Homo sapiens: one gene and its partners. Each later gene encodes a partner of the first gene's protein in a complex. Each region holds a gene or a part of one and is shown in the gene's direction. Other genes may lie near its edges. The genes, in order: SNRPG, PRPF8, GEMIN4 and GEMIN2.

What was found.
Region 2: SNRPG (region 1) and PRPF8 share a complex: the UniProt entries of both Homo sapiens proteins name them as parts of the U4/U6-U5 tri-snRNP complex.
Region 3: SNRPG (region 1) and GEMIN4 share a complex: the UniProt entries of both Homo sapiens proteins name them as parts of the SMN-Sm complex.
Region 4: SNRPG (region 1) and GEMIN2 share a complex: the UniProt entries of both Homo sapiens proteins name them as parts of the SMN-Sm complex.

What each region holds. Positions count from the first base shown.
Region 1 is NC_000002.12:70,280,855-70,283,790, reverse strand, and holds the end of SNRPG (small nuclear ribonucleoprotein G), read left to right. Parts: intron 1-2,106; coding exon 2,107-2,157; 3' UTR 2,158-2,429; downstream 2,430-2,936. UniProt on the Homo sapiens protein: Plays a role in pre-mRNA splicing as a core component of the spliceosomal U1, U2, U4 and U5 small nuclear ribonucleoproteins (snRNPs), the building blocks of the spliceosome.
Region 2 is NC_000017.11:1,653,839-1,660,895, reverse strand, and holds part of PRPF8 (pre-mRNA-processing-splicing factor 8), read left to right. Parts: intron 1-68; coding exon 69-198; intron 199-317; coding exon 318-464; intron 465-894; coding exon 895-1,055; intron 1,056-1,347; coding exon 1,348-1,539; intron 1,540-2,132; coding exon 2,133-2,370; intron 2,371-2,514; coding exon 2,515-2,643; intron 2,644-4,134; coding exon 4,135-4,248; intron 4,249-4,330; coding exon 4,331-4,504; intron 4,505-5,352; coding exon 5,353-5,546; intron 5,547-6,879; coding exon 6,880-7,057. UniProt on the Homo sapiens protein: Plays a role in pre-mRNA splicing as core component of precatalytic, catalytic and postcatalytic spliceosomal complexes, both of the predominant U2-type spliceosome and the minor U12-type spliceosome.
Region 3 is NC_000017.11:743,921-749,264, reverse strand, and holds the end of GEMIN4 (gem-associated protein 4), read left to right. Parts: intron 1-1,232; coding exon 1,233-4,399; 3' UTR 4,400-4,844; downstream 4,845-5,344. UniProt on the Homo sapiens protein: The SMN complex catalyzes the assembly of small nuclear ribonucleoproteins (snRNPs), the building blocks of the spliceosome, and thereby plays an important role in the splicing of cellular pre-mRNAs.
Region 4 is NC_000014.9:39,124,323-39,131,379, forward strand, and holds part of GEMIN2 (gem-associated protein 2), read left to right. Parts: intron 1-669; coding exon 670-714; intron 715-3,957; coding exon 3,958-4,026; intron 4,027-7,057. UniProt on the Homo sapiens protein: The SMN complex catalyzes the assembly of small nuclear ribonucleoproteins (snRNPs), the building blocks of the spliceosome, and thereby plays an important role in the splicing of cellular pre-mRNAs.

The sequences.
Region 1 (2,936 bases):
CACCATGCCCAGCCATTCTTTTTTAAATCTGCTCTTTACTACCTTATCATACTCATTGCTGATAATTGGCTGCCAGGTTCCAAGACACTTATCCTACCAATTGTGTTCCCTTCTATTCTGTCAGCTGCAGTAATCACATGTGAGTTCTTTTATTCATATTTACCAGGTTATTGAGCCCTCTGTGTGCCTGCTACTATTTTAGGCACTGGGGTTTTGCACCTAAGTCCCTGCCCTCATAAAATTTACATTTGTATGGAGAACACAATAAATCATAGCGTATGTGTAAATAAAACAAGCATGATACTGTGAGAAAAGAATAAGTTACAACTACTTTTACTCTAGCTGCCTATAAGCATAGCTCCACTTTGAATCTTTTTGGAATGCCTCCATTTCTAATAAACACCTCAAATTATTACATTACCTTTCTCTCCCCTACATTACCTATTCTTTCCCTCCCGTACCCCTCCATTCACCTATCCAATTCTACTTGACTGATGGGTGATCTATCGATTATGATGATCTCCAGTCTATTAGGGACTTACTGTTTTTAGTCCCCTAGCCTTCCAGTTTCGCTTATTTTTCTACCCCTCTTGAATTCATTTACCAGCTGATTCATCTATACTCTGATAAGTTTGTCTGTTGGTTTGTTTTGGTTTTGGTTTGTTGTTTTTTTTTTTTTTTTTTTTTTTTTTTTGACAAAAGACAGTTTCGCTCGTTGCCCAGGCTGGAGTGCAGTGGCGCTATCTTGGCTTACCGCAACCTCCGCCTCCCGGGTTCAAGTGATTTCTCCTGCCTCAGCCTCCTGAGTAGCTGGGATTACAGGCATGTGCCACCACACCCGGCTAATTTTTTATTTTTAGTAGAGATGGGGGTTTCTCCATGTTGGCCAGGATGGTCTCGAACTCCCAACCTCAGGTGATCCACCCGCCTTGGCCTCCCAAAGTGCTGGGATTATAGGCGTGAGCCACCACACCCCCGATAAATATTCTTATCTTCATTTATGGCTTATCTACTAGGTCAAGCACTGTTCTCCTAGGGCCTTTTTTTTATAACTTCTCTTTCTGCCTCTAGGTTCTGTCCTATTCAAACTTCGGCGTATTTATATAATATCTTGTTGCAGGGACACTTATGGTTGTCATTCCCCCAAGTGAAACTCTCACTGGCTCATTGTTAGTTTCTGATGTCCTCCAAACACTAAGATTGGCATTTGAAGCTTTCCAAGATTGAATGCCAACTATCTTTGTTTCCTGATTCTCTTCGTGAACTTTTTACTGCATTCAAATTAGATTACTTCCTTATCCTCTCATACTTTGTCTTCATCTTAGTTCTGTCTAGAATTTCCTACAATCTCCTTTTCAAAATTCTGCCCAATTTCCAAGACCCAGGTAAAATGTCATTTTCATAAAGCATGCCTTTCACAATTTCCCATCCTGGTTTCTTCCCTAAATGATCTCATACCTCCAAACTGTACCTAACATACTCTACTGTACATATTTTACTCATTAATTTTTGGATCCCATAGAGTCAGGGATGGGCATTTAAATTTGAGTCCTGCATTTTAGAAGGTGAAATTAGGGCCAGGCGTAGTAGCTCACGCCTGTAATCCCAGCACTTTGTGAGGCTGAGGCAAGCAGATTACTTGAGGTCAGGAGTTTGACACCAGCCTGGCCAACATGGTGAAACCCCGTCTCTACCAAAAATATAAAAATTAGCTGGGCGTGGTCAGGGCTCCTGTAATCCTAGCTACTTGGGAGGCTGAAGCAGGATTGCTTGAACCTGGGTGGCAGAGGCTGCAGTGAGCCGAGATTGCGCCACTACACTCTAGCCTGGGCAACAGAGTGAGACTGTCTCAAAAAAAAAGGTGAAATTAGTCATTGGAGACTTGGCATTAGAATCTCATAAAGCAAATTGTTAGCCTTAAATCCAAAAGATGTCTGTCGTATAAAGGGCTTAGAGTTGTTTGGTGTCCCTGTGGCTTGAACAAAGCTTTGCAAACCGACATGTAATATTAAAAAACCATTAATGATTTGGTGAAAATTCTTAAATCATCATAGTTATGTCTGTTACCTGAGTTGTTCTTTTCAAATTTATTTTTCTCTTTCTTAGGTAATACGAGGAAATAGTATCATCATGTTAGAAGCCTTGGAACGAGTATAAATAATGGCTGTTCAGCAGAGAAACCCATGTCCTCTCTCCATAGGGCCTGTTTTACTATGATGTAAAAATTAGGTCATGTACATTTTCATATTAGACTTTTTGTTAAATAAACTTTTGTAATAGTCAAAAATGCTTTCTCAGATGTTCTGAATATAGAATATCAGCTCTCATTCCAGTTTTTTCTAACATGAATTTTCCTGGTTGACATTGATTTCAAAGGGTTTTATGCATTAAAGTGAAAGAATCTTATTAAATGTGAAACATGGCAAGGATTCCTTCTGTCCATCATCTTTCAACACTGAACAGATAAAGAAGTTACAAACATGAGTGAGTTTCTTCTAAAACACTAATTTTCAAAACTTGTAAGAATAGTAACTTTGATCTAGCCTGACTTTCCCAAGTACATCTACATTCCAAATATAGTACAACAGAAGCAAAAGACAAGAAGTAATGATGTAGTTGTTTATTTTGAATATAATCATGAAGTGGGGAAAAATTTTAATACAAGAGTAGAAAGAGGATTCCAGAGAAAAACATTCCAGTGTATCATGGTTCTTTGTGAGTGAGTAGAGAGGGGTAGTGAGGATGCTGTCCACAATGTATTCATCTAGTTAATGAATTGTATGGCCCACAAGCTCAAACGAGAGATACATTACAGATGGTTGTATTATAAACCTAATCTTAAGAAACCTTACCAAGCAAATGCTTAAAGACTGATTTTTTTGTGATCTGATAAAAAGCCTGCAAATCGTGAATCACTTTTAAACTGTACAGAATGG
Region 2 (7,057 bases), on another chromosome or scaffold:
CTCCAGGAGGTTAGCAGTGTGCTGGGAAATGGCAGGATATCACCTCACCTGCTTCTCTTGCTCCCCAGGGAGAAGGCCAGTGGCTTTGAGGAATCTATGAAGTGGAAGAAGCTAACTAATGCTCAGCGATCAGGACTGAACCAGATTCCCAATCGTAGATTCACCCTCTGGTGGTCCCCGACCATTAATCGAGCCAATGTGAGTGTGATTGACACTGGAGAGGGGAAGCTAAAGACAGTTGCTGCTTCTTGCCTTGGTTATGTCGTGAGCGCCCGAGTCTCTTGATCTCTAATGTCACATTGTCGTTTTCCTGGCAGGTATATGTAGGCTTTCAGGTGCAGCTAGACCTGACGGGTATCTTCATGCACGGCAAGATCCCCACGCTGAAGATCTCTCTCATCCAGATCTTCCGAGCTCACTTGTGGCAGAAGATCCATGAGAGCATTGTTATGGACTTATGTCAGGTGGGCTGGAATCGAGGGGAGAGGGTACTGTAGAGAGTCAGCTCAGGTGGAATTGAGGGGAGAGGGTACTGTACAGAGTCAGCTCAGGTGGAATCGAGGGGAGAGGGTACTGTACAGAGTCAGCTCAGGTGGAATCGTGGGGAGAGGGTACTGTAGAGAGTCAGCTCAGGTGGAATCGCAGGGAGAGGGTGCTGTACAGAGTCAGCTTAGGTGGAATCGCGGGGAGAGGGTGCTGTACAGAGTCAGCTCAGGTGGAATCGCGGGGAGAGCGTGCTGTACAGAGTCAGCTCAGCTTGCTCTTTTGCATATGGGAAATCCACCCTGGAAGCTCTGAGGATGAGACTCCTATTGCCTCATTATCTTATTGTACAAACTCTGATTTTAATTGGGCTTCCTTAACAAGTCTTAATCTCTCCATGTTTTCCTTCAGGTGTTTGACCAGGAACTTGATGCACTGGAAATTGAGACAGTACAAAAGGAGACAATCCATCCCCGAAAGTCATATAAGATGAACTCTTCCTGTGCAGATATCCTGCTCTTTGCCTCCTATAAGTGGAATGTCTCCCGGCCCTCATTGCTGGCTGACTCCAAGTAAGTGCCTCAGGACCCAGCCCTAGGCAGCCAGGACACTTTCGTTTTCCTGTTCTTCTAGCCCTGCAACTTTAGGAATTGTCCTGTCTGCCTTTGTTTCAAACTTGGAGCCAGTGCTACGCTTGGAGCCTGTCAACACCCTTAGTCAGATCTGCTGATTCTCTGGGGTCCTGCTGACCTGGAACAAGTTGGTGGAGTGGGTGGGATGGTTTTGGGATTTAAGTGGTTCTGGTTCTGGGGACATTGGTTATGCCCATGGTTTCTTAGAAGCTTGAACCCTCTTCATCCTCAGGGATGTGATGGACAGCACCACCACCCAGAAATACTGGATTGACATCCAGTTGCGCTGGGGGGACTATGATTCCCACGACATTGAGCGCTACGCCCGGGCCAAGTTCCTGGACTACACCACCGACAACATGAGTATCTACCCTTCGCCCACAGGTGTACTCATCGCCATTGACCTGGCCTATAACTTGCACAGGTGAGTTGAGGCTCAGGACCATGTATTTTCAGGCCAGGCGCAGTGGCTCACACCTGTAATCCCAGCACTTTGGGAGGCCGCGGTGGGCAGATTGTCTGAGCTCAGGAGTTTGAGACCAGTCTGGGCAACATGGTGAAACCCTGTCTCTACCAAAATACAAAAAATTAGCTGGGCGTGGTGGTCCACGCCTGTAGTCCCAGCTACTCAGAAGGTTGAGGTGGGAGAATTACTTGAACCCGGGAGGCGGAGCTTGCAGTGAACCGAGATTGCGCCACTGCACTCCAGCCTGGGCGACAGAGTGAGACTCCATCTCAAAGAAAAATAATAATAATAATAAATAAATAAATAATCCGTGTATTTTCCATTAGCTCCATACTTTAACGTAGTCATACTTTTTTACTTTACCTAAGTGAGAGGAAGTGGCCCATTCCTCCTATGGGTCACTGATTCTCTTCTCCAGCCTGTATGTACACATGAGCAGAGTGTTGTCAGCCTGGCGAACAGTCTTTCTTCCTCTGTAGAGTTGGCAGCTTGTCTTGTTTCTGGGGCTGTCATTCTCGTCTTAACTTTTCTTGACCCTTTTATCCTCACAGTGCCTATGGAAACTGGTTCCCAGGCAGCAAGCCTCTCATACAACAGGCCATGGCCAAGATCATGAAGGCAAACCCTGCCCTGTATGTGTTACGTGAACGGATCCGCAAGGGGCTACAGCTCTATTCATCTGAACCCACTGAGCCTTATTTGTCTTCTCAGAACTATGGTGAGCTCTTCTCCAACCAGATTATCTGGTTTGTGGATGACACCAACGTCTACAGAGTGACTATTCACAAGGTGAGTGTTAGCAGCAGTGTATAGGTGCGGGACTCTGTACATGGCTGTGGGAGAGTAATGGGCTAAGTGTGTACACATGCTGGGAAGAAGGCAGGATGGGGATGTGTTGTGTAGGCCATGCTAACGAATGCCGTCCTCCTCTAGACCTTTGAAGGGAACTTGACAACCAAGCCCATCAACGGAGCCATCTTCATCTTCAACCCACGCACAGGGCAGCTGTTCCTCAAGATAATCCACACGTCCGTGTGGGCGGGACAGAAGCGTTTGGGGCAGGTGAGCAGGTTTAAAGATGAAGAGGCTGTAGAACCATGTTGCCTCTTATTCTTGGGGTGGACTTGGTAATATTTACTGGTTTATTAGATGAAAGGCTGAGAACATCTCATTTGAACTTATCCCCAAAATACCTTGGGAAGTATTCTGTGGGAGGTCCAAGAGTGTATGAGGTGCTTCGTTCCCTTCCAGCTGGTCTGTTTCCTGAATTTCTAACCTTGAACAGGGCTATCAAAAATCATTTTTCCAAAGGCAACGCATACTCTTTTTTTTTTTTTTTTTTTTTAGCCGGAGTCTCGCTGTGTGGCCCAGGCTGGAGCACAGTGGCTCAATCTCGGTTCACTGCAAGCTCCGCCTCCCGGGTTCACGCCATTCTCCTGCCTTAGCCTCCCGAGTAGCTGGGACTACAGGCGCCCGCCACCACGCCTGGCTAATTTTTTTTGTATTTTTTAGTAGAGACAGGGTTTCAACGTGTTAGCCAGGATGGTCTCGATCTCCTGACTTTGTGATCTGCCTGCCTCTGCCTCTGCCTCCCAAAGTGCTCGGATTACAGGTGTGAGCCACTGCTCCTGGCCAGCAATGCATATTCTCTTTTTTTTTTTTTTTTTTTGAGACGGAGTCTTGCTCTGTTGCCCAGGCTGGAATGCAGTGGCCTGATTTCAGCTCACTGCAAGCTCCGCCTCCCAGGTTCACGCCATTCTCCTGCCTCAGCCTCCCGAGTAGCTGGGACTACAGGTGCCCGCCACCACGCCCGGCTAAATTTTTTGTATTTTTAGTAGAGACGGGGTTTCACCATGTTGGCCAGGATGGTCTCAATCTCCTGACCTCGTGATCCGCCCGCCTTGGCCTCTCAAAGTGCTGGGATTACAGGCTTGAGCCACCGTGCCCGGCCCAGCAACGCATATTCTTGAAACATCCACTTTGACCAAATCTCTTCTCTACCTCACAACTCTTGCTGAATTAACTCTTCTTTAGCTTCCTAGACGTTCAACATCTGGCTGGGCTGTATCTGTCCAGCCAGTTTCTCTTCCTTTACATTTATAGCATGTTTCATCTTACATTCAGTCCAGGATCTTAGTAGCCCAAACCCCTGATGCTCATCTCCAAATCTGTGTTTTGCTTGTATTTTTCTTTCTAGAATGAACTCCCCTCTTTGCTCTGTTAATCACAGTCCCTCCTTAAGACACGTTTTTTTGTGCAGCTTTTTTCTGATCCTAGTAGCCTTAATTTCTTTTGTTCCTGAACTCTGTAAAACAGTGTATAGTTTAGCACATACTCATGTGTCAGCTTGTGGTATTGTCTTGTTGAAAGGGGCTGTCAGCCTGGTCATTGGACACGGCCATTTGATACTCTTTGTACCTTCTAAGTGCCTAACATTTAACATCAGTGTTCAATAGAAACGTAGTTGGATTATTTCAAAACTAGGATATTCTGTTCTAGTTGATCTGGGAGGGTAGAGACTAAATTTCCATTTTCTTCTCTCTTGCTTTTAAGTTGGCTAAGTGGAAGACAGCTGAGGAGGTGGCCGCCCTGATCCGATCTCTGCCTGTGGAGGAGCAGCCCAAGCAGATCATTGTCACCAGGAAGGGCATGCTGGACCCACTGGAGGTAAGAGGGTGGGGTGGGGTAGGAGAAAAGAGACCTTGAGACCTTCAGGCTGTTTCTCATCTTGGACTTGATCTTGTCTTAGGTGCACTTACTGGACTTCCCCAATATTGTCATCAAAGGATCGGAGCTCCAACTCCCTTTCCAGGCGTGTCTCAAGGTGGAAAAATTCGGGGATCTCATCCTTAAAGCCACTGAGCCCCAGATGGTTCTCTTCAACCTCTATGACGACTGGCTCAAGACTATTTCATCTTACACGGTATGAACCTCGGGAAGAGAAGATCGCTGGAGGAGGAGCGGGTTTAGGGTTAGGAGAAGATCCTGTGTCAGGTTTTTGCCATTTTCACATTTTTAGCCTATAGATTGGGTGGGAACTCTGTTGACTTTCATGAGAGTTTAAGACCTTAAAGTTAAAAATCAACTCTTGGGGCCGGGCGTGGTGGCTCACGCCCGTAATCCCAGCACTTTGGGAGGCTGAGTTGGGTGAATCACCTGAGGTCAGGAGTTTGAGATCAGGCTGGCCAACATGACGAGACCCCATCTCTACTAAAAATACAACAAAATTAGCCGAGTGTGCTGGGATGCACCTGTAGTCCCAGCTACTCGGGAGGCTGAGGCACCAGAATCACTGGAACCCAGGAGGCAGAGGTTGCAGTGAGCCGAGATGGCACCATTGCACTCCAGCCTGGGCGACAGAGTAAGACTGTCTAAAAAAAAAAAAAAAAAGGCCGGGCGCAGTGGCTCACGCCTGTAATCCCAGCACTTTGGGAGGCCGAGGCGGCGGATCACGAGGTCAGGAGATTGAGACCATCCTGGCTAACACAGTGAAACCCCATCTCTACTAAAAATACAAAAAATTAGCCGGGCGTGGTGGCAGGTGCCTGTCATCCCAGCTATTCGGGAGGCTGAGGCAGGAGAATGGTATGAACCTGGGAGGCGGAGCTTGCAGTGAGCCGAGATCATGCCACTGCACTCCAGCCTGGGCGACAGAGCAAGACTCTGTCTCAAAAGAAAAAAAAAAAATTCTTGGGTTTCATGAAAGGTTAGGATTAAAGTGGGAGAGCCTCAAGCAGCTGACCTACCCCACTCTTCCAAATCTTTTCCCAGGCCTTCTCCCGTCTCATCCTGATTCTGCGTGCCCTACATGTGAACAACGATCGGGCAAAAGTGATCCTGAAGCCAGACAAGACTACTATTACAGAACCACACCACATCTGGCCCACTCTGACTGACGAAGAATGGATCAAGGTCGAGGTGCAGCTCAAGGATCTGATCTTGGCTGACTACGGCAAGAAAAACAAGTGAGCAGTGCTGGTGGGGACACAGACAGGAGGTCTATATACGGTTTTCTGGGGTTTTTTGGAAGCACTTAGGCTTAGAAGTTTCTCAAGAAGGCCAGGCGCGGTGGCTCATGCCTGTAATCCCAGCACTTTGGGAGGCCAAGGTGGGTAGATCATTTGAGGTCAGGAGTTTGAAACCATCCTGGCCAACGTGGTGAAACTCCGTCTCTACTAAAAATACAAAAGTTAGCCGGGTGCGATGGCGCCTACCTGTAATCCCAGCTACTCGGGAGGCTGAGGCAGGAGAATTGCTTGAACCTGGGGGCAGAGGTTGCAGTGAGCCGAGATCATGCCACTGCACTCCAGCCTGGGCGACAAGAGTGAGACTGTCTCCAAAAAAAAAAAAAAAAAAGACGTTTCTCAAGAAATTATCTTGTCTTAGCCAGGCTTGAGTGCTCATGCTAGTAATACCAGCACTTTGGGAGGCCAAGGTGGGAGGATTGCATGAGCCAGGAGTTGAAACCAGCCTGATCAACAAGAGACTGACGCCATCTCTACCAAAAAAAAAAAATTTAAAACAGGTGTGGTGGTACACGCTTGTAGTCCCAGCTTCTTGGAGGCTGAGGCAGGAGGCTTGCTTGAGCCCGGGGGTTTGAGGCTGCAGTGAGCCATGATGATGCCACTGTACTCCAGCCTGGGTAACAGAGCGAGACTCTTGTCTTGAAAACAAGGAAAGAAATTATCTTACAGAGTCTCGAGGAAGAGAGATACAGCAGTGTCTTCGAATAGTATGGGAAGCATCCCTGTTTTAGGGCTTCAGTCTGACTCTTGGCCATTGTTTCTCACTGTTGCCATTTCAAACAGGGCATTTCTTTACTGTCCATACATGGGAAGAATTTTGAACATCCGAGACCCTAAGTATCCGAGACTGCTGCCAACACACACACACACCTTCCTCCCCTCGTCTCCCTCCCTGTCATCGTGGCAACCAAAATTATCCATAGGGTGACGGACAATACCACCTCTGATTAAGAACCAGTATTCTAGGGTTTCTGGGGTTTCCATTTCTGAGAACAGTTCCATGCCAGAGCATTGTTTTGGTCAAGGAAGCGTAGGGTTTATGGATGCTAAACAGTGGGAAGGTGCACACGCAGTGTGCTGTCCCGCTTGGATCTGACGAATCTTGGAAGTGTTAGTGCACCTCCGTTTCACACTTCCTGTAGAAGCAGCTCTTGTGGATTGTCTGGGGCGTGAGTATAGGCTGTCCTGTCCTACCAAGTTACACCCTTTCCATTGAGGCAGAAGTGACCAAGGGGAAGGGATCCTTGTAATATAACCCACACCATCCCCACAGTGTGAACGTGGCATCACTGACACAATCAGAAATTCGAGACATCATCCTGGGTATGGAGATCTCGGCACCGTCACAGCAGCGGCAGCAGATCGCTGAGATCGAGAAGCAGACCAAGGAACAATCGCAGCTGACGGCAACACAGACTCGCACTGTCAACAAGCATGGCGATGAGATCATC
Region 3 (5,344 bases), on another chromosome or scaffold:
TGCCCATTACCCTGTGGCCGTGTGATTGCTCTGTGCCCATTATCCTGTGGCCGTGTGATTGCTCTGTGCCCATTACCCTGTGGCCGTGTGATTGCTCTGTGCCCATTACCCTGTGGCCGTGTGATTGCTCTGTGCCCATTATCCTGTGGCCGTGTGATTGCTCTGTGCCCATTATCCTGTGGCCGTGTGATTGCTCTGTGCCCATTATCCTGTGGCCGTGTGATTGCTCTGTGCCCATTACCCTGTGGCCGTGTGATTGCTGCTGTGCCCATTACCCTGTGGCCGTGTGATTGCTCTGTGCCCATTATCCTGTGGCCGTGTGATTGCTCTGTGCCCATTATCCTGTGGCTGTGTGATTGCTCTGTGCCCATTATCCTGTAGCCGTGTGATTGCTTCTGTGCCCATTACCCTGTGGCTGTGTGATTGCTGCTGTGCCCATTATCCTGTGGCTGTGTGATTGCTGCTGTGCCCATTACCCTGTGGCTGTGTGATTGCTCTGTGCCCATTACCCTGTGGCTGTGTGATTGCTCTGTGCCCATTATCCTGTGGCCGTGTGATTGCTGCTGTGCCTGTTACCCTGTGGCTGTGTGATTGCTCTGTGCCCATTACCCTGTGGCTATGCTCCCTTCATCTGTCATGAGAAGCTCAGCTGTCATGTCCTGTGGTACATGCTCAGTGGCCCCTGTAGTTTGTACTGTCCTCCTATTTCTAAACCCCTCTCCCCACATCCTCTGCTGGCCCAGCCTTTGCTGGAGGGTCTCGCCTCAGCAGCCCAGCTTTTTCTTTTCACACACTTTTCCTGAAGGATCTCATTCACCGTCTTGGTTCCGGTGATCCCCTCTGGGCAGATACCTCTCAGAATCACATTTCCCAGCTTACTTCCCTCCTGAACTTCCACCTGGCATTTCCGTTGCTGGAGGACATCTGTACCTTGATGGCCAAAGCTGAACTCATCTTTCCTCACACCTGCTCTGATTCTCCTCCATTCCCTGTATGTGATGTCACCTGGTGGCCTCCCAGTTCCCAGGCTGGAGAGCTCGGAAGCCATTCTGGATTCCTCGGCCAAGTCCTTCTGACTCCAGCTGTGCAGTGGCTCTTGTAGTCATCCCTTCTCCCCGTCCGCTGATGTCCTTTAAAACCCTTGTCATCTCAAACCATGACAGCCTACTAACAGCAGTGGCCATCTGGAAACATTTTCACTATACTGTCTTATTTGGCTTGTCTGTGTGCAGGACCCTTGAACATCTGTGAAGAAATGACTATTCTGCATGGAGGCTTCTTGCTGGCCGAGCAGCTGTTCCACCCTAAGGCACTGGCAGAATTAACAAAGTCTGACTGGGAACGTGTTGGACGGCCCATCGTGGAGGCCTTAAGGGAGATCTCCTCGGCTGCAGCACACTCCCAGCCCTTTGCCTGGAAGAAGAAAGCCCTGATCATCATCTGGGCCAAGGTTCTGCAGCCGCACCCCGTGACCCCGTCCGACACAGAGACACGGTGGCAGGAAGACCTGTTCTTCTCGGTGGGCAACATGATCCCCACCATCAACCACACCATCCTCTTCGAGCTGCTCAAATCCCTGGAAGCTTCTGGACTCTTTATCCAGCTCCTGATGGCCCTGCCCACCACCATCTGCCATGCAGAACTAGAGCGCTTTCTGGAACATGTGACCGTTGACACTTCTGCCGAAGACGTGGCCTTCTTCCTGGACGTCTGGTGGGAGGTGATGAAGCACAAGGGTCACCCGCAGGACCCCCTGCTCTCCCAGTTTAGTGCAATGGCCCATAAGTACCTGCCTGCCTTAGATGAGTTCCCCCATCCTCCAAAGAGGCTTAGGTCAGACCCAGACGCGTGCCCCACCATGCCCCTGTTGGCCATGCTGCTCCGCGGGCTGACACAGATCCAGAGTCGGATCCTGGGCCCGGGGAGGAAGTGCTGTGCGCTGGCCAACCTGGCTGACATGCTGACTGTGTTTGCGCTGACAGAGGACGACCCCCAGGAGGTGTCTGCAACCGTGTATCTGGACAAACTGGCCACGGTGATCTCTGTGTGGAACTCGGACACCCAGAATCCCTACCACCAGCAGGCGCTGGCAGAGAAGGTGAAGGAGGCAGAACGGGATGTCAGCCTGACCTCGCTGGCCAAACTCCCCAGTGAGACCATTTTCGTGGGCTGCGAGTTCCTGCACCACCTGCTGCGGGAGTGGGGGGAGGAGTTGCAGGCCGTGCTCCGCAGCAGCCAGGGGACAAGTTACGACAGCTACCGGCTGTGCGACAGTCTGACTTCCTTCAGCCAGAACGCGACGCTCTACCTGAACCGCACCAGCCTGTCCAAGGAGGACAGGCAGGTGGTCTCTGAGCTGGCGGAGTGTGTCAGGGACTTCCTGAGGAAAACGAGCACGGTGCTGAAGAACAGGGCCTTGGAGGATATCACAGCTTCCATTGCCATGGCCGTCATCCAGCAGAAGATGGACCGCCATATGGAAGTGTGCTACATTTTTGCCTCTGAGAAGAAGTGGGCCTTCTCGGACGAGTGGGTAGCCTGCCTGGGGAGTAACAGGGCCCTCTTCCGACAGCCAGACTTGGTGTTGAGGCTGCTGGAAACAGTGATAGACGTCAGCACAGCTGACAGAGCCATCCCTGAGTCTCAGATCCGGCAGGTGATCCACCTGATCCTGGAATGTTACGCAGACCTCTCCCTGCCAGGTAAAAATAAAGTCCTTGCAGGTATCCTGCGTTCCTGGGGGCGAAAGGGCCTCTCTGAAAAGTTGCTGGCTTATGTGGAGGGTTTTCAGGAAGACCTCAATACAACTTTTAACCAGCTCACTCAGAGTGCCTCCGAACAGGGCTTGGCAAAAGCTGTGGCCTCCGTGGCCCGCCTGGTCATAGTGCACCCGGAAGTCACGGTGAAGAAAATGTGCAGCCTGGCTGTGGTCAATCTCGGCACCCACAAGTTCCTGGCCCAGATTCTCACTGCCTTCCCTGCCCTTAGGTTTGTGGAAGAGCAGGGTCCCAATTCATCTGCCACTTTCATGGTGTCATGCCTCAAAGAAACCGTCTGGATGAAGTTCTCTACACCCAAGGAAGAAAAGCAATTTTTAGAGCTCCTGAACTGCCTGATGAGTCCCGTGAAACCCCAAGGGATTCCAGTGGCTGCTCTTCTTGAGCCAGACGAGGTGCTGAAGGAATTTGTCCTGCCTTTCTTGAGGTTAGATGTTGAAGAGGTAGACCTCAGTCTGAGGATCTTCATCCAGACTCTAGAGGCAAACGCGTGCCGAGAGGAATACTGGCTCCAGACCTGCTCCCCGTTTCCACTCCTCTTCAGCTTGTGCCAGCTCTTGGACCGCTTCAGCAAATACTGGCAGCTTCCCAAGGAGAAGCGGTGCCTCTCTTTGGATAGGAAGGATCTAGCGATCCATATCCTGGAGCTCCTGTGTGAGATTGTATCAGCCAATGCTGAGACCTTCTCCCCGGATGTCTGGATCAAGTCCCTGTCCTGGCTCCACCGCAAGTTAGAACAGCTAGACTGGACTGTGGGCCTGAGGCTGAAGAGCTTCTTCGAGGGGCACTTCAAGTGTGAAGTGCCAGCCACACTTTTTGAGATCTGTAAGCTTTCAGAAGACGAGTGGACCTCCCAGGCCCACCCAGGGTACGGGGCTGGCACGGGGCTCCTGGCCTGGATGGAGTGCTGCTGCGTCTCCAGCGGCATCTCGGAGAGGATGCTGTCTCTCTTGGTGGTGGACGTGGGCAATCCTGAGGAGGTCAGACTGTTCAGCAAAGGCTTTCTGGTGGCCCTGGTGCAAGTCATGCCTTGGTGCAGCCCTCAGGAGTGGCAGCGCCTTCACCAGCTGACCAGGAGACTGCTGGAGAAGCAGCTCCTCCATGTCCCTTATAGCCTGGAATATATTCAGTTTGTTCCCCTGCTCAACCTGAAGCCCTTTGCCCAGGAGTTGCAACTCTCCGTCCTCTTCCTGAGGACTTTCCAGTTTCTCTGCAGCCATAGCTGTCGTGATTGGCTTCCTCTGGAAGGCTGGAACCACGTGGTCAAACTCCTCTGTGGCAGTCTGACCCGCCTCCTGGACTCAGTCAGGGCGATACAGGCAGCTGGCCCTTGGGTTCAAGGACCAGAGCAGGACCTGACCCAGGAAGCCCTGTTTGTTTACACCCAGGTGTTCTGCCATGCTCTGCACATCATGGCCATGCTCCACCCGGAGGTCTGTGAGCCACTCTACGTTTTAGCCTTGGAAACCCTCACCTGCTATGAGACTTTGAGCAAGACCAACCCTTCTGTCAGCTCCTTGCTCCAGAGGGCACACGAGCAGCGCTTCTTAAAGTCCATTGCTGAGGGCATCGGCCCTGAAGAACGGCGCCAAACCCTGTTGCAGAAGATGAGCAGCTTCTGACTTGGCGTGGGGAGCTGGGCCCCAACATGGCGGGTCTGCAGAAGATCAGCAGCTTCTTACCTGTGCGGGAGCGAAAAAGCTGGGCTTCAACATGGCAGGTCTGTAGGGGTCAGACCCGAGCAGCCTGGACTTTACAGTTATGTGAAACTGTCCACAAAAAGTCATGGCAATAATGGTGTAAAGAAAATAGTTTCTTGGGTATTTGTAACGTACAAACTATCATAAAAATTCTCCTCTTTCGCATCTCACTTTGTCTCTTCTAAGTCGGCCTCAGCAATAGCCCAGGATTAAATATGCTCTGAAATTGGGTTTAGTGTCTTCAAGATCAAATCCAGCCAGGAGGAACATGTTCATAACTGGACTTTTCCATCCTAGATTTTGGCAAATAAGCCCAAAGTTGAAACCATGTGAGTGGAAAAAGCATTACATGGTACGTATAACCCCCTTCAAGAGTTATTTCGTCTTTTAATGTTTTTTTCTTGAGGTATCTTGGAAAGGACAGCAGCTTGGAAAAGAATCCAGTCCAGCCCTGGCTCTGCCTCTGGCCATGAGACTGCTGTGCCCGAGAGGCCTGCACAATTCTAAAATGAGAGGATTGGAGGACCAAGATAAACTCAGTGGCGAGGGGCTAGGTTAGTGACCTCAAGAAAATGGGTCCCCTCTGAATTGAGGAGTGTGTACAGTCTTTGTTGCTCAGACTAGCCTTGAACCCCTGGACTCAAGTGATCCTCCCACCTCAGCCTCCTGAGTAGCTGGGACAATAAGCACACCCACTTCCCATACAGTCTTAACTCCATCTATTCAGTCACCCCCAAAGGGGCTACTGTGAAGACGAGACCTGGCAAACCCAGCAGAGATGTGCTGAATGGATGGGTCACGTTAGCTTTTGCCTCAGGAGGGGTTGTCAAGATTTGGATGAATGAATGGTTTGGATAAGGGAATGAT
Region 4 (7,057 bases), on another chromosome or scaffold:
ATTTTGAAATGGTGTATACAACATATTAATGTCATCTTATCAATGTTACAGTTTTATTGGATATACTTAATAAGTTAGTTTTTTCAAGTACTATCATGTAAAAAATTTTTAGTCTTTAACATTTTACTTACTAAAATCATACTTTATTTAAAAATTTACAAATTCAGACCAGGTGAGGTGGCTCATGCCTGTAATCACAGCACTTTGGGAGGCTCTGGCAGGTAGATCACTTGAGCTCAGGAGTTCCAGACCAACCTGGGCAACATGGCAAAACCTCATCTCTACCAAAAATACAAAAAAATTAGCTGGGCGTGTTGACATGCACCTGTGGTCCTAGCTACTCGTGAGGCTGAGGTGGGAGCATCACCTGAGCCCAGGAAGCAGAGGTTGCAGTGAGCCAAGATCGCGCCACTACACTCCAGCCTGGGTGACAGAGTGAGACCCCATCTAAAAAAAAAATTACATATTCAAAATTTAAGGCGTTATTTTCTTCCGCATTACAAACATAGTAGTTTCCGGAATGTCTCATTGTTATGGACAATGAAAGAATTTTCTTTTATTTGTTCTTTGTTTCTAAACAACAGTGTGGCAAGAAATTCACCAGTTTGAAAAAAAAAAATGAAGCTTATAATACCATTTAGTAAAATTCAGTCTCATTTTTTCTTTCAGATTGGTTTTCCTCCCTTGCTTAGTATTGTTAGCAGAATGAATCAGGTAAAATTAATAATAGAGATATATGCATTCTTTTGTTTGCATTGTGTGTGAAAGTATTTGAATTGTTAATACATATACTGAATTCTTACAGTATGCAAGACTTTGTCCTAAGCTCTTTAATGGTTCTTATTTAATCCTTACTACAACCCTCTATGGAGAGTTATTATTGATAACTACTTTTTATAGATGAGGAAACAGCATTTGAGGTTAAGTAACTTGCAGGTGGTTTTTCAGCAAGTAAATGGCAGTACTGAGATTCAGTGCCAGGTAGATCTAACTCCAGAGCTCATGCTCTGTCTTAATCATGGTGCTAGAGTATTCATTTCTGTAGCTTTCAGTTATAAGTCTTAGATTCTGGGGTTTGAATTAAATACAAGGTCCCTGACTTACAATGGTTCAGTTTAGGATTCCTTTTTTCCCACCATGCCTGGCTAATTTTTGTATTTTCAGTAGAGAGAGGATTTTGTCATGTTGGCCACGTTGGTCTCGAACTCCTGGCCTCAACTGATCCACCCACCTTGGCCTCCCAAAGTGCTGGAATTACAGGCATGAGCCACCATGCCCAGCCATTTTAGGAATTTTCAACTTTACAATGTGTTTATCAGCACATAACCCCATTGCAAGTTCAGGGGCATCTGTACTAAGGTTAGATTGCTATTTCTAGTTCTAGATGTCCTATACATTCTATTAAGATTGAAATATGGGCCGGGCGCGGTGGCTTATGCCTGTAATCCCGGCACTTTGGGAGGTCAAGGCAGGTGGATCACAAGGTCAGGAGTTCGAGACCAGCCTGGCCAACATGGTAAAACCCCATCTCTACTAAAAATACAAAAATTAGCTGGATGTGGAGGTGTGCACTTGTAATCCCAGCTATTTGGGAGGCTGAGGCAGGAGAATCGCTTGAACCTGGGAGGCAGAGGTTGCAGTGAGCCGAGATCGTGCCATTGCACTCCAGCCTGGGCGACAGGGCGAGACTCTGTCTCAAAAAAAAAAAAAAGAAAGATTGAAATATATGATTTCTTGGATCAAAAGGGAAGAATTATGGAGTTTGGTTCTTCAGTTTTTTAGGAGTAAGGACTCTTATTCATTTAAAAAGCAAATAAAAATTTAATTTTATCTTCACATAGCATTGGGTACCTTTGGAAGCCTTTTTTTTTTTTTTTGGCAGGGTCTCATTCTCTTGCCCATGCTGGAGTACAGTGATGTGATCTTGGCTCACTGCAGTCTTGTACTTTGGGGCTCAGGCAATCCTCCCACCTCAGCCTCCTGGTAGCTGGGACCACAGGCATGTGCTACCATGCCTGGCTAATTTTGTTTATTTTTGGTAGAGACAAGGTCTCACTGTGTTGTCCAGGCTGGTCTGGAACTCCTGAGCTCAAGCGATCCTCCCACCTCAGCCTCCCAAAGTGCTGGGAATACAGGTGTGAACCACTGGGCCCAGCCAACAATTTTTTTTGTGGGTGATATTCTCTTGGAAATAATACACAAGCTGACAGTGTTACTTAATCATTTGCATTAAGATATTGTAGCAGTCATACTAAATTCCATCAGTGTCATTTTTGTTGTAACCATCAACTGTATTTGAATAAACCAGAGATTATTTTCAAGAGTTTGATAAATCCATCTGTATAGTTTAAGAACAGATTTTTCTCCACCTAAATTTTTATTCAGATTTGTACTTTGATTTAATTTGAATTTAGAAATAAACTGATGGTTTTTTTGTTTTGTTTTGTTTTGTTTTGTTTTTTGAGAGGGAGTCTCGCTCTGTCGCCAGGCTGGAGTGCAGTGGCACAATCTTGGCTCACTGCAACCTCCACCTCCCAGGTTCAAGCAATTCCCCTGCCTCAGCCTCCCTAGTAGCTAGGACTACAGGCGCACACCATCACACCCAGCTAATTTTTTGTATTTTAGCAGGGATGGGGTTTACCGTGTTGGCCAGGATGGTCTTTGTCTCCCGACCTTGTGATCCACCCGCCTCAGCCTCCCAAAGTGCTGGGATTATAGGCATGAGCCCACCGCGCCTGGCCAACTGATGGTATTTTTACAAATACATCTTTTTTTTTTTTTTTTTTTGAGACAGAGTTTCGCCTTTTGCCCAGGCTGTACTGAAGCGGCAGGATCTCAGCTCACTGCAACCTCTGCCTCCTGGGTTCAAGCAGTTCTCCTGTCTCAGCCTCCCGAGTAGCTAGGATTACAGACCCCGCCACCATGCCTGGCTAATTTTTGTATTTTTAGTAGAGACGGGGTTTTGCCGTGTTGGCCAGGCTGGTCTCAAACTCCTGACCTCAGGTGTGCCATTGTTTTTTTTTTTTTTTTTTTTTTTTGAGACAGAGTCTCACTCTGTTGCCCAGGCTGGAGTGCAGTGGCAAAATCCTGGCTCACTGCAACCTCTGCCTCCCAGGTTCAAGGGATTCCCCGGCCTCAGCCTCCCTAGTAGCTGGGACTGCATTCACTCACCACCATGCCCGGCTAATTTTTGTATTTTTAGTAGAGATGGGGTTTCACCATGTTGGCCTGGCTGGTCTCAAACTGACATCAAGTGATCCACCTGCCTCGGCCTCCCAAAGTGCTGAGATTACTGGCAAGAGCCACTGAGCCTGGCCACAAATACATTTTCTTTTAACCTTGTGAAGTCTTTCAAGTAGTTACAAACTAAATTATTAATAGTTACAAACTAAATCCTAGGATTTAAACCAAGGTGTTAGTTGATATTTGAAAGTGTGAAAATATTTGTTTTAAAAGCCTCACTGGGGCTAGGCGCGGTGCCTCACACCTGTGATCGCAGCACTTTGGGAGGCCGAGGAGGGCGGATCACCTGAGGTCGAGAGTTCGACCAGCCTGACCAACATGCAGAAACCCTGTCTCTACTAAAAATACAAAAATTAGCCGGACGTGGTGGTGCACGCATGTAATCTCAGCTACTCAGGGGGCTGAGGCAGGAGAATTGCTTGAACCCGGGAGGCGGAGGTTGCAGTGAGCCAAGATCGCACCAGTGCGCTCCAGCCTGGGCAACAGAGTGAGACTCTATCTCAAAAAAAAAAAAAAAAAAAAAAAAAAGCCTCATTGGATAAGCCGCCTAATCAAACTAATTAGAGTCAAACAAATTAGCTTTCTTTGAAAGTTTAAAGAATGAGGCCATTTTTAACATCAGAGTTGCTTTCTAAATAAACTTAATGAAACTCATGTTGAATTCATGTTTTATTATTAATACAACTCTTCTCCACCCCCTCTTTTTTTTTTTAGGCAACAGTAACTAGTGTCTTGGAATATCTGAGTAATTGGTTTGGAGAAAGAGACTTTACTCCAGAATTGGTAGTATTGCATGTTTTTCTTTTCATAATGTAGGCAAAAATTAGACGTTTTGGGTCAACTGTGGGCCACATATACAATGGTGCTCCTATAGGATTATAATACTGTATTTTTACTGCACATTTTCTTTTTTTCTTTTCTTTTTTTTTTTTTTTTTTTTTTTGAGACAAGGTCTCGCTCTGTTACCCAGGCTGGGGTGCAGTATTACAATCATAGCTCACTGCAACCTTGATCTCCCCAGCTCAAGCAATCCTCCTGCCTCAATCTCCTGAGTAGCTGGGACTACAGGCGCATGCAGCCACGCCCAGTTTTTTTTGTTTTTTGTTTTTTGTTTTTTTTATTAGAGACAAGGTCTCACTGTGTTGTCCAGGCTGGTCTTGAACTGAGTCCAAATGATCCTGCCTCCTCACCCTCCCAAAATGCTGGGAATTACAGGCATGAGCCACCATGTGTGCGGCCTTTTGTGTTTTTTAAATAGAGACGAGGTCTCACCATGTTCCCCAGGCTGATCTCAGACTCCTAGGCTCAAGTGTTCTTCCCACCTTGGCCTCCCAAACTGTTTGGATTACAAGCATGAGCCACTGAGCCCGGCTCCTTTCCAGTATTTAAATATGTTTAGATCTGGCCAGGCACAGTGGCTCATGCCTGTAATCCCAACTACTAGGGAGGGCTGAGGCAGGAGGATCACCTAAGGCCAGGGAGGTTGAGGCTGCAGTGAGCCATGATTGTGCCACTGCACTGCACTCTAGCCTGAGTGACAGAGTGAGACCCTATCTTAAGAAATAAATATATGGTTTTTTTGGATGCACAAATGTTTACCATTATGTTACAGTTGCCTACAGTATTCAGTATAGTAATGTGCTATATAGGTTTGTAGCCTAGGAGCAATTGGCTATGCAATATAGTCTAGGTATAGTAGACTATACCATCTAGGTTTGTGTAAGTATACTCTATGATGTTCATCCAGGGTCAAAAATCACCTAACAATGCATTTCTCAGAATATATCTCCCTTCATTAAGTGATGCATGACTGTACTTGATGTGATGCTACGGTATTTATTTATTTTTTATTTATTTGTTTGTTTTGACATGGAATCTCCCTCTGTTGCCCAGGCTGGAGTGCAGTAGCGCGATCTCGGCTCACTGCAGCCTCCACCTCCTGGTTTCAAGTGATTCTCCTGCCTCAGCCTCCCAAGTAGCTGGGATTACAGGCACCTGCCACCACACCCAGCTAATTTTTGTATTTTTGTAGAGACAGGCTTTCTCCATGTTGGCCAGACTGGTCTTGAACTCATGACCTCAGGTGATCTGCCCGCCTCCACCTCTCAAAGTGTTGGAATTACAGGCGTGAGCCACTGCACCCAGCCAGTATTTATATTTATATTTATATTTGTATATGTGTGTGTGTGTGTATATACATATGTATAATCTGAACTATACTTGTTTGTAGTCAAATAAGAAACACTAGAATGTAAATCAACATACTACTTCCTTCATTGAGAAAGTCTTGGAGAAAAAAAGTCAATGAAAGAGTTGATGTATATCCTGGTACAAGGTACAAACTCCTTATCTCATTGCAGACAAGTTTGTTTTTTTTTTTTTTTTTTTTTTTTGAGATGGAGTCTCACTCTGTCACCCAGGCTGCAGTGCAGTGGTGCCATCTCGGCTCACTGCAACCTCTGCCTCCCAAGTTCAAGCAATCCTCCTGCCTCAGCCTCCTGAGTAGCTGGGACAAGTGTAGAGAATATTTAATTTAAATTAAATATTTAATTTAAATGCTAGCTTTACATAGTAAATGTATCCCTTAAAATTTGAGTCAAGTTGAAACATATAATTTTTTTTTATAGAAAAAGAATTCCACAATTTGTAAAAGAAACCTGGATTTGAATCTTTTTCTGTAAGAAAAAGTCTTAACTATTGATTTGAGTTTGCCTGAGGAACCCATTTAGTGTGTTGTATAAATTGCTATTTAAATTTTGTCCTAATATTTTTTAGGTTTCCCCGAAGTGATATGTTGCTTAGAATAAACAAAGTTGTATATACTACTGGTGGAAATACAAATTTGGTATAACCTTTCCAGGATACAATCTGGTGATCATATCTGAAAAACCTTGATGAATATACATACCCTTTGTCACCATTTTACTTGCAATACTTAATAAACTTTCCCCATGTTGTTAAATGAGATTAAACAAGGGAATGTTATTAAATACTCTAAACAAGACACTTAACATTCCCTTGTTAATCCCATTTAACTACAAGGGATGGCTGAGTGGGGTGGCTCACTCCTGTAATCCCAGCACTTAGGGAGGCCGAGGTGGGCGGATCACTTGAGGTCAGGAGTTCGACACCAGCCTGGCCAACATGGTGAAACCCCCATCTCTACTAAAAATACAAAAATTAGCTGAGCATGGTGGCGGGCGCCTGTTGTCCCAGCTACTCAGGAGGCTGAGGCAGGAGGATTGCTTGAACCTGGGAGGCAGAGGTTGCAGTGAGCCGAGATGGCACCACTGCACTCCAGCCTGGATGACAGAACGAGACTCCATCTCGAAAAAAAAAAGAAAAAGGACAAAAACAACATGGTAAACATTTTATTATGTATTATAAATAAAAAAGATGGCTACAAGATGATATTACAACTGATGAAATTGTATTGAAAAAAGGTTGTACAGCCGGGCATGGTGGCTCACGCCTGTAATCTCACCACTTTGGGAGGCTAAGGCAGGCAGATCACTTGAGGTCAGGAGTTCGAGACCAGCCTGAACAACATGGTGAAACCCGGTCTCTATTAAAAATACAAAATTAGCCGGGTGTGGTGGTACATGCCTGTAATTCCAGGTACTCAGGATGCTGAGACAGGAGAATTGCTTGAACCCGGGAGGCAGAGGTTGCAGTGAGCCGAGATCGCGCCATTGCACTCCAGCCTGGGCAACAAGAGTGAAACTCTGTCTCAAAAAAAAAGAAAGTTGTACATACGAATAGGAAAAACAAGAACATTTTTAAAGTGAATCAAAGTTTGATCTGGAATGTTGGG